Linked DNA regions of Homo sapiens: region 2 is linked to region 1. A link means that fine-mapping ties the variant in region 1 to the expression of a gene that starts in the linked region. Tissue or cell type: fibroblasts. Region 1 holds a variant in brackets; the other region holds the start of a gene. All regions are shown on one strand. Distances are between the middles of the regions.

Evidence for each region.
Region 2: ABHD17B starts here. The variant in region 1 is fine-mapped to the expression of ABHD17B in fibroblasts (GENCORD, PIP 0.95).

The regions. Positions count from the first base shown.
Region 1 is chr9:71,863,728-71,872,596 of GRCh38, reverse strand. It overlaps ABHD17B (abhydrolase domain containing 17B, depalmitoylase), which reads left to right. Exons shown (of 4, transcript NM_001025780.3): 3 at 2,335-2,514; 4 at 5,591-7,445. The coding sequence ends at 5,810. Among named protein-coding and RNA genes, the nearest start is that of ABHD17B, 43 kb to the left of the region's middle. The variant G/A (reference allele first, on the strand shown) is at 3,880.
Region 2 is chr9:71,906,448-71,915,316 of GRCh38, reverse strand. It overlaps ABHD17B (abhydrolase domain containing 17B, depalmitoylase), which reads left to right and starts at 4,124. Exons shown (of 4, transcript NM_001025780.3): 1 at 4,124-4,683. C9orf85 (chromosome 9 open reading frame 85) reads right to left here and starts at 3,678. Exons shown (of 4, transcript NM_182505.5): 1 at 3,481-3,678. The coding sequence starts at 3,582. RefSeq lists enhancers at 3,411-3,470, 3,481-3,530, 3,601-3,910 and a silencer at 4,361-4,600.

The sequences.
Region 1 (8,869 bases):
TTTAAAGGGTGCTAAGTTAAAACTGATAGCCAGCTTTCATTATTAGTGCTTCCCAGTAACGCAAAAGGGTCACTTTACTCAAACAAAACATGTTAGTATTCAGTTCAGTGTTCTGTGTCTATATGAAAAAATCCCATTTTTTAAGTGGTCAACTTTACTGTTTTTTTCTTTTCTTTTCTTTTAATCTTGGCATTTACCAATTTGAAGAAAACTTTGAAAAATGATTTTCAGCCTTAATTTTTTTAACATATTTGATAGCCAGTGTTAATCAGGAATGGGCAGATTTCATCAATAATCCCACATACTATTTTAGCACTTATATTTTAGAATTTTAGACCTGTGTTTTCTTTCGTGTTGAAACCAAAATATAGTTGGAGTTTCATAAGTGTAGGTACTTTAGGAAATATTACTTCTCTGAGCCTGTGTTTCCTCATCTGTTTAATGAAGAGATTGAATTAAATGATCCCCAAGATCTTTTCCAATTCTGGAATTCTGTCATCTAATGAAATGTGTGTAATTAGAATACATGCCTTTTATTTTATTTGCCTGATTAAAAGTTAGGACTTAAGTAACCAGGAGAGAGAAAATAAATAATGAACTTAAATAATGTTCATTTTTGGGATGAATGAACATTGGAATGTCCTTTTTGGGAAAATTGGATATCCATAATAACTCCAATTTCTGACCTTCTGATGGACCAAAAGAAACTCGGGGCCTGGCATTCACTATGCACCTTTCCCACAAAGTCCTTGAGTTCCTCATCTGTGTGCTTCAGAGGTAAAAAACACTGAACTGGGAGTCAGTATACCTGGGTTCTAATTATAGAGCTGTCATCTACTGGTGACTTTGAAGATCTGCTCATTAGGCAGCTGGACTCTAGATTAGATGGTCTCTAAACTCCTTTCTAGCTCATACTGTTAGGCAGTTGTTACTCTTGTGAGTCCCCTCATGCTTAATTGTCAGCTACCTCTGCGACTCTATCCTTGAGCATTGTCATTGCTAGCTGTAGCCCAAATTTCATGATTGCCACCAACAATGCTGATATTCAGCTGACAGCAACAATGCAGCCTCAAGAACTGTGGTCATGCTGCAAATGTTCATTCTCCTAATTTCTTCATTCGTATGAAATATGTGCAACTAGGTCTGTTGTAAAGAAAAAAGCTTTTCTGAGTTTGCTAATATTTAGAGTCAATTTGAAGTAGACAGAGCCCCACTTTCTGTGTCCTATACAAATGCTTGTGTAGTACTGACTTGAAGAAACTATATGGGGAGAGCTGTGTTACTACCTGTATAGTTGAAATAGTATTATGCCCCTGGAAGAGAACACACGGACAGTTTCCCTCGCTCTTTCCTGGTGAATATCCAGATTCTTAGAAAGATATTTTACCTTTGCAAAAGATTTCCAAAAGCAGCTGTTATGTTCTTAGCTGCCAGAGTGACTGCTGTCTGCCTTCTAAGTGGAAAGGTGTATTTAATGTCACTATAACCTTTAAGCCCACATTCATTAGCTCAGGTAGCACTGTACTTACACTTGCAGTAGTTTACATTTGGGATGATTATACTGTAGACAAGTAGCAAGCAGTTCCTTGAACATACTAGGTACCCAATAAATATTTATTGAGTCAATGAGTTTTCATCTATTTAAACCTGTGGCCATTTTAAAGGGATTAAAATAGTACCTTGTAATTTTAGCGTAAAGTCTAATCATAAATAATTGGACCATGTGGTGTTTGGAATTCTTTTTTATCTTTTCAACCATTAGTCCATTTCTACAACTAAGCAAAGATCAATTTTAAGAAAAATCGTAAAATCATAATTTGCCCTTTACTAAAACCATACATATATTCATTTCATACCATAACTATATGTAACAGTTCATCAATATGACCAATTTTGGAAATTAAAATGAGCCACTCTTGATGTGTGGAGAAATAAATAACTTTTGTTACACTGAACGGAAAATAAATATGACCTATTCATTCAACATCAGTTCATTAAAATATTAGTGATATGCCCCAAGCTTAGTCAGCAGTAAGCTAGGTTGAAATATTATAGTGTAATAAATTATTTAATAAATTTATTTCTTAAGATTGAAATCTTAAAATACCTCAGCAATTATTCTTCCAAAAGATGAAGTAGAGAAACACATGAAATAAACTGATGATACAGACTTTATTGTAATGTTAAAACTAACAGTAATAGCTAAGAAACTTAAGTTTAAAAAATGGATTAGTTGACATTGTCTTATTCTAAGATCAAATCCTTTGGAATGATGGAACATTTCATATCACTCCAACTTTTTTGGTTTTTGTTTTTAACGCCTGAACTTTGTAGATATGGCATTCGCCCTGAAAATGTGATTATATATGGCCAAAGTATAGGGACAGTACCGTCTGTGGATCTTGCTGCTCGATATGAGAGTGCTGCTGTTATTCTTCATTCTCCTCTGACTTCGGGAATGCGAGTTGCCTTTCCTGATACCAAGAAGACCTACTGTTTTGATGCATTCCCAAAGTAAGTAGCAATATTCAAAATAGTTAAATTCCAAGAAACTTGGGAATTTTTTCATCATTTAAAGTATTCATGACACAGTTCACTCAACCATAAACTTCATTTTATATATATTAGCACATAGAAATTATGAAAAATTAATTTGTAAAGAGGGTATTAGCAGGTGACCAGTCAGAAGGCTGAAATGTTTGAGGAGTAGTAATCCAGATGAAAATTGCTGAGGGCCTTACACCTCAGGTGGTGGCACTAGTATTGGAGACAAGGGAATTAATTTGAAACATAAATTTGACAGAACTGAGTATCAGACTGGGTGTAGGATGCTAAAGAGAAAAACTTGAACATGACTACCATGTTTCTGCCCTGAGGTGCTAATGGATAGGGCCATCCAGTGAGACACTTGATGTTAGAGAAGAACAGGTAGAAGCTAAAATGAGTAAATATCTGATTAATGATACCTAACTTACAAAAGAAGTGAATTGAAAAAAAGTTGAATCTTAAATTAACTAGATTAGTAAGTATTGCTGCCACAAAACCTGCAAACATACTTAGATGTATTTGAAAGGAAAGTAGCTACTTTTCCTTCATGCTTCTCAAGACAGGAGGTAGTTCCCACCTACTCTTCATAGTTGGAAAAAATTAATGGCCTATTTTTCTCAAGGAGAAGACAAGAAATAAGTTGGCAAATTTTAGTTTTCTCTCCTTTCTCCAATTGGCAGCAATACAAAGGATTTTTTTTGTGAATGGCCGATGGGCCAAAGGCAAAGTCATCACATGGTTCAAGAATTATTTTAAAAACACAGAATTTTCATCATTAGCCAGTAATGGATCACTTTAGTAGGGAAAGTATGTGAACACATGATCTTATCACAAGGGCAAGCTGTGGGCATGTTTGGGTTTTTATTTTGTTTTGGGTTTGTTTTTGTTTCAGGTAATGTGGGTATAGGCATTATACTGCCTCTGTCTAGCTGAATGGTAAAAATGATAGGGATGTATCTGAGTATCCCCATATCAGTGTTGTTGTCAACTTATGTCTCCATCTAGCTCCCTCTTTCATTTCTGGTGCACCAACAGAGAGCAACACTAAAAATAAACTGTTTGGCCAGGCACAGTGGTTCACGCCTGTAGTCCCAGCACTTTTGGAGGCCGTGGCGGGTGGATCACTTGAGGCCAAGAGTTCGAGACCAGCCTGGCCAACATGGTGAAACCCCGTCTCCACCAAAATTACAAAAATTAGCCAGGCATGGTGATGCGTGCCTGTAATCCCAGCTACTCGAGAGGCTGAGGCATGAGAATCCCTTGAACCTGGGAGACAGAGATGGCAGTGAGCCAAGATGGTGCCACTGCACTCCAGCCTGGGCGACAGAGCGA[G/A]ACCCTGTCTCAAAAAATAAAAATAAACTGTTTGAAAAAGATAATATACTTCTTTTTATTTTTTATTCAAGTTTTAATTCCTCTACCGCTGAACATCTTTCTGACAACAGATAGTAAACCCAAGTATTTATTCTTACCAAATGCAGCCTTAGATTATTTCATTGATGGTTTTTTCATTGTCAACATTCCATTTTCATTTTATGTTTATTATAATACCTTTCTCTAAAGATTCTTAAAAAGAATTGTCTGTGTAGTTTCTGTGTCCTCCAAGTTGCCTTTTAAAAAAGTGTTTGTTTTGATTCCTCTGTTATTTGAAGTGTTCTCCTCTCATGTCTGATAATTCTTGGTTGCCTGCTTATATGTAAGTAAAGGAGCTGATCAACTCTTTACTCTTACATATAAGCAGACAATCAAGATTTAGCAGATCAACTAAAGGGCTGATCTGATAATAATCTCCAAAGAAGGCTCTTTCTTTCTTTCTTTCTTTCTTTTTTTTTCTGAGACAGAGTCTCGCTGCGACACCCAGGCTGGAGTACAATGGTGTGATCTTGGCTCACTGCAACCTCTGCCTCCAGGGTTCAAGTGATTCTCCTGCCTCAGCCTCGCGAGTAGCTGGGATTACAGGCATGCGCCATCATGCCTGGCTAATTTTTTTTTTTTTTTTTGTATTTTTAGTAGAGACGGGGTTTCACCATGTTGATCAGGCTGGTCTCGAACTCCTGACCTCAGGTGATCCACCCACTACGGCCTCCCAAAGTGCCGAGATTACAGGCATGAGCCACCGCACCTGGCCCAAAGAAGACTTTCTAAAAGTCCCTCCTGGAGGACAGTGGCCTGACTACCAGCATTCTGGGAGCCACATAGGGAAAATGGGTTCATAGTAGCCAGTATGTAAATGTATATGTTTCCATTGTCTCTATGATACCTCTGTTCTAAACTCTGGCAGTCTTCTAGTTCACAGACATTCCAGTCTTGGGGGCAGGCAGTTTCTGGGTATATGAACAGGCAAAAGGAACTGGGAAGGGGAGGCTAACTTTCTTACACAGACTTTGCAAAAATCCTGTATATTTCAATCACCCCCTTCATCACCATGGTAATTCCTTAGCTTTCTGGGGTATTCTGTTGTATAAATTGGTTTCGTTCATCACTTTACCATCTATCTGCCTAAAATTGTGTTTTCTTCTTTTAATAAATTGTTTCACACATTAATCTTCTTTCCAGCTCCAACATTTTATTATATTTTAGTACATTCTCCTTGTTTTTGTATCTTTATCCTCAAACAAGAACAAAAACATAAAACATTTTGCTGTCATTTTAGTAGGAGACTAGGAGAAAGAATATAGTGAGTGCAGAAAGTGAAATTAGCGCATACTTGAAATGGTTCTTAAATTTTCTCTTCTTCTGGACACCTAAGTTTCTCTGTGCCAAAAGTCAACATTGTAGAAAGGTACAGTAGAGTGACAAGAGCATTGAGTGATTCCAGCAAAACCATCAAAACAAGTGCATGAAAATAACTTCCTCAGATAATCTTAAGGTAGGGAGTATGTAAAAGGCAATTTTTGAATCTTACTGGAAATTCAGGAGACATTCTTACCTTCTGAACTGATTCATACAATTCTCATATTTGAATTATCTGTCTGATATAGCACAAGAATATGTTCCTTTACATAGTTAATTTATTGCATTTTTCCCCCTTCCTTTTTCCCTGCAGCATTGACAAAATCTCTAAGATAACCTCTCCAGTATTAATAATTCATGGGACTGAAGATGAAGTCATTGACTTTTCACATGGCCTCGCATTGTTTGAACGTTGCCAAAGACCTGTGGAGCCTCTCTGGGTTGAAGGAGCAGGTCACAATGATGTGGAACTTTATGGACAGTATCTTGAAAGGTTGAAACAGTTTGTGTCACAGGAACTGGTAAATTTGTAAAATATTCTGTAAATTTGCTACTGGGTTTTCCTTTCTTGCTGAACTGCACTCTTTGGTAAATAACATAAAACCTGAAGGTTTTGTTTGCAAATCATGTCAGTTGCCTTCATAAATGTACAGGTAATGATTTGTTAACAGACTTAATGAAGGTTTTAATTACCAGAACTAAAAACTGGAAATAACAGTACCGTGCAGTCAGGCTGTGTAATTTATATTTTTTCTGTGAATTTTTTTTTAACATCAAGATGAGTACTGTATGAGATTTTAATTCTATAAAATCAAATGCTGTAAAAGTATTGCCAAATGCTTTTGCATACTAGAAACAAATTTATAAATATTTTTAAAACATCTCAATATATTAAATCTTATCCTGGAATACAACTGTAATATTTTGAAAAAAGCTATGTATCTAAAGCAATTTAAGTACTCATAATGGAATGAACTGTAAAAGAGATTTAAAACCATGCAAGTTCACTAGAATTAACCTAAACCCTGTTGTACAGGGATAGAGGTTTAAAGTTATTTTATTGTAAAATACATTGAATTTTCTGTATACTCTGATTACATACATTTATCCTTTAAAAAAGATGTAAATCTTAATTTTTATGCCATCTATTAATTTACCAATGAGTTACCTTGTAAATGAGAAGTCATGATAGCACTGAATTTTAACTAGTTTTGACTTCTAAGTTTGGTACTGTGAGGCAAGTACTTAAAATTTTCATGCTGGTTACTTAAAAGGCATTTAGAGATTTCAAGAATGATTTTGTATACGATGTTTTAAATTTTGACTGATCTCATAGTCTTCATAGAATTGCAGTAGTCTTCATTGTATGAAATCCCGAAAGTCCATGAGTTGATCTTAAAGACCACTAACAGACTGGCTATCAGATCCCTTTTCACTTTGGCTATTTTTTTCATTTTTTGAGATGGAGTCTTGCTGTGTCACTGAGGCTGGAGTGCAGTGGCGCGATCTTGATTCACTGCAACCTCTGCCTCCCGGGATCAAGTGATTCTCCTGCCTCAGCCTCCTGAGTAGCTGGTATTACAGATGCTTGCCACCACGCCTGGCTAATTTTTGTATTTTTAGTAGAGACAGGGTTTTGCCATGTTGATCAGGCTGGTCTTGAACTCCTGACCTCATGATCTGCCCTTGGCCTCCCAAAGTGTCGGAATTACAGGCATGAGCCACTGCGCCTGGCCCACTTTAGCTATTTTTAAAAATAGGACCTATTGTTTTGGATTACTATCTGAGAATTTCATGGATTCACTCCTGGGTATAGGAGATAAGAATACGTTTAATTCATAACTTTTATATTAACCAATATAGTAAAAAAATAAAGCTCACACATACAAAAACTAAGTTGCCTTTCCTTGAATGAACCCTGTCTGAATAAAACAATGAAAAATAAAAATAAAATTAATGGTATGTAGTCTAATTTGTAAATGAATGAATATGGAAATAATACACACTGTGGATATATTTTAAGGCCTTATGTAGTTTTAATTGTTCTGCTCGTTCCGTGGTTATGTTTAAGACTATAGTATATGACTCTCTTCAAAGTATATCAAGTATTGTGAATGCTTTGGTTCAGATGTGTCAAATTAACAGTAAAACAACAAATATACCACTGACCTGTGCTTATTTGCCTTTTTCCATGCTCCCCACCCCCACACTAGAAAGAGTGAAAAAAAATTACCCTTCGTTTTTATAGGACATAGTTTGAAAATTTTTAAAATTATATCATCACTTTTTTGGAGAGGTCTTTCTTTCTCAAGATTGTCTTGTAACCTATACAGTTTCTTCTTTGTACAGCATACAACCCAGGGCTTAGCTAAATGTTTTCTTTGATTACCTGGGGAAATCTAAATATTGATCCTATTCATTCAGTGTTCGTTCATTCAACAGACAGTTACTGAATGTATAAATCATGCAAAAACCTGTGCTAGGTAAAGACAGACTGTGTCCTCATAGATTTCATGGTATAGCTAAGGAGACAGGCACCTCATTGCACAAATATTACTATTTTGATAAGGGCTGAAGGAGATTTGTAAGGTATTGTAACAGGTAAAAGGTACTTTTGGGAGGGGAACATAGGGAGCAGGGCAAGGAAGAGTCCCCCAGAGAAGTGGTATTTCAGCTAAGTTTTGAAGGATAACTAAGAATTGGGTAGACCTGGGTGACCCAGGGGAAGCATTCCTAGCTGAGGGGAATGAATAATATATGGAAGCCTAGAGGAAGGAAGGTGCAGTTAAATATGAAGACTGGGCCAGGGGCGGTGGCTCATGTCTGTAATCCCAGTACTTTGGGAGGCTGAGGCAGGTGGATCACGAGGTCAGGAGATCGAGACCATCCTGGCTAACACGGTGAAACCCTGTCTCTACTAAAAACACAAAAAGTTAGCTGGGCGTGGTGGCACGCGCCTGTAGTCCCAGCTACTTGGGAGGCTGAGGCAGGAGAATCACTTGAACCCGGGAGGTGGAGGTTGCAGTGAGCCGAGATCGCACCACTGCACTCCAGCCTGGGTGACAGAGCGAGACTCTGTCTCAAAAAAAAAAAAAAAAAAAAAAAAGAAAGTTTGGCCTATGCATGAGGCTGCTAATTAGGAACACAATTACAGATGGCATGGTGAACCCTAGTCTTTATCCTAGAAACAAATAGGCCATTGATAGAAAAAGGAAACAGCACTTGTCAAGAGTATAGATGAAAAAATCTGGAGATTTTCGCTTGCTGGAAATAACGTGTAAGTCAGTTGTGTAGAAACTGATCTAATTTTAGAGTGGTGAAAAATACATCATGGGAAAATGATACACAAAGTGCTGTTCAAACCACATTTACATTACTAATGTTATTCCAGGATGCAGTGAAAGGATATTTACAAATTAGAGCAAATCCTGAGGTATTTGCCAAGTTGGAAAAGGTACCGTAAACTGAAACTCCCAAACCAGCTGAAAGATGTGACTAAGGAGTAATAGCTACCTTCAAATATTTGAGAGGCATGTACAATGTATTTTATCTGGCTCTCAGAGCAGGACTGGGTGAAAATTACACAATACCA
Region 2 (8,869 bases), 43 kb before region 1:
CCCAGCTACTTGGGAGGCTGAGACAAGAGAATCACTTGAACCCAGGAGGTGGAGGTTGTGGTGATCCATATCACGCCACTGCACTCCAGCCTGGGCGAGAGAGCGAGACTCTGTCTCAAAAAAAAAAAAAAAATAATAATAATAATTTTTGTAATGATCTCTGTAGCAATCCTCAGAGGAAAGTAAGACAAGAGATAGTACTAACCCAGTATCATAGATTAAAAGCTATAGGTAAATTGCCTGACATCATCAAGCAAAACAAATGACAGAACTGGGGCTAAGGAATGGCTCTTTTCTCTTAGTCCAGTGCTCTTTTCGTTGGACATCACTGCCTTTCCAGTAAGGGAAAGAAGGCTGCCTTGATCTGCTCAACATCTCAGTACTAAATGACTAGAAAAGATTTAAACCTATTCCCACTGCCGACCCTCTGAATCCCCATAAGTCATTTGAGGGTACCGGTGACCAATGGCCAGAGGGACCTCTTTTAAATAACCCCAGGGAAGAGGAGGTTACAAATCCCGGCGCAAGCCCCTTCACTGTCAGATAATTCCCTCATATTGAGCTGAAACCTATTTTTGTTACTTTGATTCCCTGGTCCAAGTTTGGCCATTTGAAATGGCACAAAATTTGAATATACTCTCCTTTTCTAGAGTATATTCAAGCATATAAAGAAAGCTATCATCTGTGTCCTTTTGAGAATGAGTGCTTTACCTATATTAACTTCCAATAAAACATCTGTAATTATCCAACTTCTAATTGCAGTGAGTCCTAACAAACTGCTTGGCAGAGGAGGAAAAGAAAAACTATCATGTAGGACCCCTACCAAATCATAAAGTATTTAATACAAGTAGTCAATTGTTACTACAGTCCTCTAAGGCAGGGGTGTCCAATCTTTTGGCTTCTCTGGGCCATACTGGAAGAATTGTCTTGGGCCACACATAAAATACACTAACACTAATGACAACTGATGAGCTTAAAAAAAAAAAAATCACAAAAAAATCTCATAATGTTTTAAGAAAATTTACGAATTTGTGTTGGGTTGCATTCAAAGACGCCCTGCACCATGTGTTGGACAAGCTTGCTTTATGGGGAGTTACAGAGAACCGTGCATTTTTTATCACTCCTTTGTTAGATGTCACCAGATCAAATAGCTTTCCAGTGTAAAGAACAGGCACAAAGTTAGGATCAGATGCTTCTGACAAAGTCTTGGCTTTAGATGGCTACTCATAGCAGATGCAAGAATCTGTTATGATCACAGACAATTATTAGCTATTCATTACACAGATGAACAATCAACCGAATGATTTTTCCTCAGTAAAATATTTTGTGTTGTTTTTGTCAGAACCTTCAATAATGAAGTGGCCTGGTGGTCCTCCTGATTAACAAATGAGACTTTTTCATAACTTAAAAGAGGGAAAGGAATTAAAGATAAAAAGATAAAAATGGTCAAATGCAACTTAGTGACTGAACCTGAGACCCAGGAAAACATTTAGGACCAGAATGACATAGTTATTAGATAACACCAAGAAAATGCACAATGAAAAGTACAAGTAGGAGAAGCTACACTATAGTTAAATACTCATTAAAACTGCTTTTTACGAAAACAGACATGAAAAACAATCAAAAGCAAATGTTTGTGCACAACCTTAGGGTAAGAATACACAAGACGCAGACATCTATTTGGAATAGTGCAGCTTTTTATTTTTATTCTGGTTTACCTATTGATAATGGGAGCAAACTTGGGAAAGTCTTCCCAAATGTTGCTTCAGGTTTTCATTCTGAAAAACCTCTCAACCTAAGTGGGGGAAAGGAGAGCACTTAATTTAAAATATTCTTCCTTATTCTCCCTTACTGAGCTGTGTTGCCCTTCACCAATATTTATCATAATTTGTATTTACTTATCTTTCTGCTTTCTTTTTGCCCATATCACCTAGAAACTATAAACTCCGTGAAGGGAGAGTCAGCTCTTTTGAACACGGTATACCTATGAACACAGGGCCTTGCACACGGAAGGTGCTTATTAAATATTTGTAGAATAAGCAAAGAAAGAAAGAGGAAAGGAAAAGGAGATCACAGGTTACCAAAAACAGATGACTTTGCTTTCCCAATCAATGTCGGGAAATTAATCACTTATTGAACACTTACTATGACCTAGGCCATTTATGCATAATCATATAGTTTCGCCTCCCAACAATCCTGACAAATTTGCATTTGAGACCAAAGTAAGGCTCAGAGAAATTAAATATTATACAACTCACTCAAGCCGCACACCTAGTAAATTTGAGCTCCATAACTTTTGTGAATATTAGGTTTATCTGAGTGATGCTGGCCCCTAATATGCCCCTGTTGTCAATGATTTTCTCTCCATACAGCTATGGAGACAGGGAGAGAGATTCACAGCAAAGAGCAAATTAGTAGTTTTTTGTTTTTGTTTTTTGAGACGGAGTCTTGCTCTGTCGCCCAGGAGTGCAGTGATGTGATCTCAGCTCACTGCAACCACCGCCTCCAGGGTTCAAGCGATTCCCCTGCCTCAGCCTCCCGAGTAGCTGGGATTACCGGCACCCGTCACCACGTCGGCTAATTTTTGTATTTTTAGCAGATTGGGAGTTTCGCCATGTTGGCCAGGTCGTTCTCGAACTTCTGACCTCAGGTGATCCGCCCACCACCTCGGCCTCCCAAAGTGCTGAGATTACAAGCGCCCGCCACCACGCCCGGCTAATTTTTGTATTTTTAGTACAGATGGAGTTTCGCCATGTTGACCAGGTCGTTCTCGAACTCCTGACCTCAGGTGATCCACCCGCTTCGGCCTCCCAAAGTGCTGGGATTACAGCACTTTGAGCCACGGCGCCCGGCCTGCAAATTAGTACTTATATACAACCCAAGTCCTCTGGCTATCTAGACAGTCTGAATTTTTTAGCAGGACTTTACAGAAGTCCTGCTAAAGATAAACAGCAAAACAAGTATTTTTACATTAACCAAATATTTTTATCTTCAAAACAATTGTTACAAAACAGAAATTTCACACAATACTAGTGAGGACAGCCTAAGACAGCTTAATCATTCACATTTCCTCTATGGGCTTGGGGTTTTTGGAAAAAAAAATCGTAGCTGCATAAACTTGGTGTAAAATTTGAAAAAGCCACTCATGCCACAATCCTCGTTTCCCTCTGCTAATGTGATCCAGATGGGAACGCTGAACGACGTAACTGCCCCATCTGCACCTTAGATTTCATTAGGGTCCTGTTCACTCTGTGCAATTAGTTAAGTGTGCTGACCATCAAATATTTACCAGGAGACAACATGTCCAGGTCAAAGAAAGGGCGTGAGAATAACATTTTAGAAAGAGTTGCACTGCAGCCAAGACTAACTCTGGGCTGCGGTCCACACTCGCCCCAGCCGACTCCTCTCATTTCCTCTCTCCCCTCTCCAGTGAGCCATTCCTTCCTGGAGTCAAAGACGGTGCAACAGGCAGGTTCCTACCTTGGTCTGCACACTTTTATCGAACTTGTCATTTTTGAAGCTAAACGTATTCTGGTGCTTCTGAGGTCTGGAACGAGCCACGTTGCCTTTCTGGGAGCTCATCGCCGAAATCAAAGCCACCCCTCGCCGGGAGCAGGCAAAAGGATGAGGGGAAAGAAAACCAACGAACTACTCCCAGGAATTGACGCTTCTGTCAATGACCCGGAAGAAACAAACGCAGCCTTTCCGCCCCGGCTCTGGGTCAGCCCACGTGACTCTTCTGGGAGGTCAAAGAGCATCGCTCTGCCCTCCCTGCTGTTAAGCCAAGCCACTCCACGCGGCGCAGCCTCGACCCCTCCGGCTCCGCGCAGCCTCTTTCTCAAACCCGGAGAACAAGTCCCACTTTCTTCGAAATGAGAATTCCCCCATTGGCCCGAATGTGTAGTCCATCAAATCAAAGGGGCGGGGAACCTTTGTTCCTATTGGTTCTTCTTTTCCGCAATCCCCGCCTCCTGCTGAGCGAGCTCAGCCTCTCCTTGAGCTCAGAGCGCCTCCCACCCTGCCGGGCGGCCTCTGATTGGTGGAAGTGAGGCAAGGCTGGGCTCCGTCTCTCCCCCCGCCCGCTAGTAGGCTGGAGCCGGGGTCAGCTTTGGCACCTTCCTCCAGTCAGTGGCCAACTCCTGGCTCAGTGGGGATTGTGCTCGTCCCCTCCGTTCCCCTCCAGTCTTCCTCCCGCTACCGGAACGAGCCTCGCGCTTGGCAGGCTGAGGAGGAGCAAAGAAAGCAGGATTAAAGAGAAGGAAGACCTGGCTAGGTCTGGGTGGCGTCTGCAGTGCCAGAAAGGGAGGCGGTGGCGGCGGCGGCTGCGACCACGGCCGCGCGGGACGTGAGGCCCGAGAGCAACCGACGGGCAGCGGCGGCCGCTCCAGCGCCCCGCACCGGGGCCGTTAGTCAGCAGAACGCGAGCTCTTGTGGAGGAGCAGGGCCGGCGCGAGGCGAGACTCGGGAGCGTGAGCGGGGCCCCTGGGGCGCCGCCGTCCTTCTTCGCCCCGGCGCCGGGGGCTGTAGCCCTGGTCCCCGCTCCTCTGTCGGGCCAGTCTGCAGGCGGAGAGAGTCGGACGGCGCCCGGAGCGCGGATCTCGCCTTGTGGAGGACAGCGCGTCGGCTGCGGTTCTCTCTCGACCCCTTCTGCCCGGCGCTTCGGCCCGGGCCGCTCAGGTGCAGGTGCGTGCGGCCTCGGGGTTTGGGGACGCCGCAGCCCGGCTCGGGGAGGGGGCGCTAGGCCGGGAGCCGCAGCGCGGGAGGGACGAGCCCGGGCCGGCGGGGGGAGGGGAGCGGGAAGCGTCTTTGTTGTTGGCGACCGGGATCCCTTCTCGGCACAGGGGAAAGGCGGGGAAGCCACTCCTCATCGGGTCTGTGTTTTTGAGAGGATTCTCTGATGGTTGCGTGAAGGGGAGCGGTAGGACAGTCCCTGCGGTCCGTGGAGCGGCCGGAGTCAGGGGGTGGGGGAGGGAGGACCGACCGACACTCTAAGAAGGTCTTTGGTCCTCCTCGGTGAAGAGAAGGGTTCCATTTCATTTCCTTTGCTTTTCTCTCAGTGGATGAAAAGATGGGGTCAGGTTCCCATTCCCCTCACTGGCGCACTGAGAGATTCGCGGGTGCCTAAAAGCTTTCTCCTGAATGTCCTTATATCTCTGTCGGGCGCGATTTTAGATTGAATCTGCACGGGGCTTGGCGATTTGTGTATTCCGGTGGGGCTGTCGTAGGGTTCTTTTTCTTTAGATGGTTGGGCTTTAATCTTATTTGTTTTCGAACTCTAAGGTAGGCTTATCAGGAATCGTTTTTGAATTGGAAAATTTAAAGGTTTTGTTTGGGATTTTTTTTAACCCCGAAACAAAGTTATGTCAAATTAGATTGTACTGTGTGGGGGCTCTCGTGAAGGAAAGAGTGTATTTAACCTGGGGTTTTTGTTTAAAAAAAAAAAAAGTTCAGATCTTTGATCTTTGGTGAGATCTCTGCCAATGCCAGAAGAGAATTTTTTGTAAATGATGCTTTAAGTCAGTGTGAAGTAGATTTGGTAAGCAAAAGGATGAATAACGGAATACAGAGGGTGACCTTTAAATTTCGCTGTTTATGAAATGTGTTCCTGTTTAATACTTTTTGTGATATATGATGCTTGATCTATAGATGATTCATTTGGAATTTTTTTATGCCTCTAATAAATCTTTGGAGATCTTGTGCCAACATATGAAACTATAATACCTAATGAGTCGGAGTAGAAAGCCAGATACATGTTGTAATAACGTTAATCTGTTTAGATTAACAGGGAAATTTACATTAAAATGAACTTTTTTCCGTAAAGAGTTTCTCTACATATGTTTATAGCATGAATTTCAGTTGGGTGACATCTAATGATAGCCAGTATTTTGAAAATTGTCATGATTGCTAGTATTCTAATTTGAGACTGCTCAACTTGTTGGTAAGTTTTTATTTGGAGAATAGGGGTCGTGTTACTTAAGGAACAGCAGAGGTAAAAATCTCTGTTGTGCAGTAATTGTCATATCATTTGAAATCCAGAAGGAAATGAATGGCACCTTCACCTATATTTTGACCTCTCTTTTCTCCTACTCTAGTGTTAATAAGGTTAATTGGCAAGGACAGGATTAGATTTTTAGCAGGCTAGGCAGTTTTAATTTTGTCCCTTAGTGTGCAGTATTCTAGTTGATGAGTAGCTTGTTTCCTTGAGTATCTTTGCCCATTTTGAAATGTTTATGAAATGACTGCTGACAAAGAATTTTCTGTTTCCTGGGACAAACAAAATCACCAAAAAACATCATGAAAAAATAATGTTTTTAGTAGCTTAATGAACACAGAAGAATTAAGCAATTAGTGTCTGTTCCAAGTTTGACACTGAATTGGTCTACAACTCCAGGCACGCTATCCCACATCTGAGTCAGTTTTCTCCATCTGTAATATAGGGCTGATAAAATGTGCCACCTGCTCACTTTATAAAAAGGGGAGTGAGAACCATGTAAGCAACAGTTACTCTGGTTATGTGACATTGATATAAGTTAAATGAGAATACTTTTTAATGCAGTGCTCTTACTTTGTTTTGATATTATGAATTTCAATCATTTGATGAACAGTTAGCATAAAGATAAGGAGAATGACTCTCCCTATGCCATCATTTAAGAATTAAAATTTCTTCCGTATTAAGATTGGTGTTAAGATCTTTAGAAGCAGTGATGACAAGAAAATAGAGTATATTTTATTGGTTGGTTTATTTACTGGTAGATTTTACTTCTGATTTATCCAAAGTTTTGCTCTTAATTCTGAAAATTCCCCCTACCCTTCCTACTCTTTAAAATTTCTCACATACATTGCCCCATTTGCCTGTCGAATCCAGCCTTGTGAGTTGGAGAGAGGGAAGGTGAGTTTGTGGCCTTTTTTTTTTTTTTTTTTTTTGAGACGGAGTTTTGCTCTTGTTGCCCAGGCTGGCGTGCAATGGCGCGATCTCGGCTCACTGCAACCTCTGCTTCCCGGGTTCAAGTGATTCTTCTGCCTCAGCCTCCTGAGTAGCTGGGATTACGGGCACCCGCCACCACTCCCGGCTAATTTTTTGTATTTTTAGTAGAGATGGGGTTTCACCACGTTGGCCATGCTGGTCTTCAACTCCTGACCTCAGGTGATCCACCCGCCTTGGCCTCCCAAAGTGCTAGGATTACAGGTGTGAGCCACTTCACTGTTTGTGGAATTTTTACAGATGAAATAAATAAAGCCCAGATAAGTTAATTATTTCAATTGCCTAAAGCTAAGCAATTAGTAAGAAGTAGAATTGAGGCTTGAACTTGGGTCTTCTCTAGTCCTGAATCCTTTGCTTTGGAGCAGTGTTTTCCAAACACCTGTTCATGCCCAAGAGTTTTGTCCAAGTGAAGTGAGAACTAACATAGCAATATAAATGTTGGTGCCATACAATATAATGAATATCCATGTACCCATCACCCAGTTAAACAAACAAAACTACCAATTAAAACGAAGTGTCCGGCCAGGCTCGGTGGCTCACGCCTGTAATCCCAGCACTTTGGGAGGGAGGCCGAGGCAGGCGGATCACCTGGGGTCGGGAGTTAGAGACCAGCCTGACCAACATGGAGAAACCCCGTCTCTACTAAAAATACAAAATTAGCCGGGTGTGGTGGTGCTTGCCTGTAATCCCAGCCACTCGGGAGGCTGAGGCAGGAGAATCGCTTGAACCCAGGAGGCAGAGGTTGTGGTGAGCCAAGATAGCACCATTGCACTCCAGCGTGGGCAGCAAGAGCAAAACTCTGTCTCAGAAAAACAAAAACAAAAAACGAGGTTTCCTTAGTATGTTAATACCTCTCTTAAATGCTGTTCCCTTTTCCCCCCGATATCTAACCAGTGACCCAAAGTTGACATGCATCCTTCCTATATCCACGTGTTGATACTTAACTACATACCTTTATCCTATGAACATTATATATATATAGTTTTATTTTGATTGTCTTAAGACTATTTAAATACAGATATCTTTATTTAGCTTGCTTTCTTCACACAACTTGGCCAAGATTTATCTATGTTTATTTAGGTAGCTCTAGTTTATTTACTTTTACTGTTAGGTGGTATGTGCTCTGTTATATAACTATGTCAGGTTTCTGTTGATGGTCATTTTTGTTGTTTCCATTTGTTTGCTATTAAACAGTACTATAAGGAATATTCCTGTATATGTTAGGTATCTGTTGTGTAAGACTTCTAGAGCAGTGGTTCTTGACCCTACCTACATCCCATGTTCATAGAAAATATTTTACAGTACTTTAAAGAAAGCATTGGCCTTAATAAAATAAGAAAAAATTGTAATAAAGTAATATGTGTTTCACTTTGTAAATACTCGAGCTCAAGACTACATTCAAGATTAGCCACCAAGTGTAATGGTCGACCAGCAACATCAGAATCCCTTGGGAGCTTGTTGGAAATGCAGAGCATCAGACTTTAACCTACTGATGCAGATGCTGTTTTTTTTTTTGTTTGTTTGTTTGTTTTTTAATAATGTAAAAGACAGGATCTCTGGAGCCATACAACTCACTGTAACCTCAAACTCCTGGGCTCAAGGGATCCTCCCACTTCAGCCTCCTGAGCATCTGGGACTACAGGTATGCACCATCAAGCCTGGCTAATTTTTAGATTTTTTACAGAGACAGGGTCTTGCTATCTTGCCCAGGCTGATCTTGAACTCCTGGCCTCAAGTGATCCTCCCTCCTCAGTATCCCAAAGCACTGGGACATTGGGATTACAGACATGAGCCACTGTGCCCGGCCAGATGCTGTATTTTATCAAGATTCCCAGGTGATGCATATACGCATTGAAATATAAGAAGCACTGCTAAAAGAAATAGTAG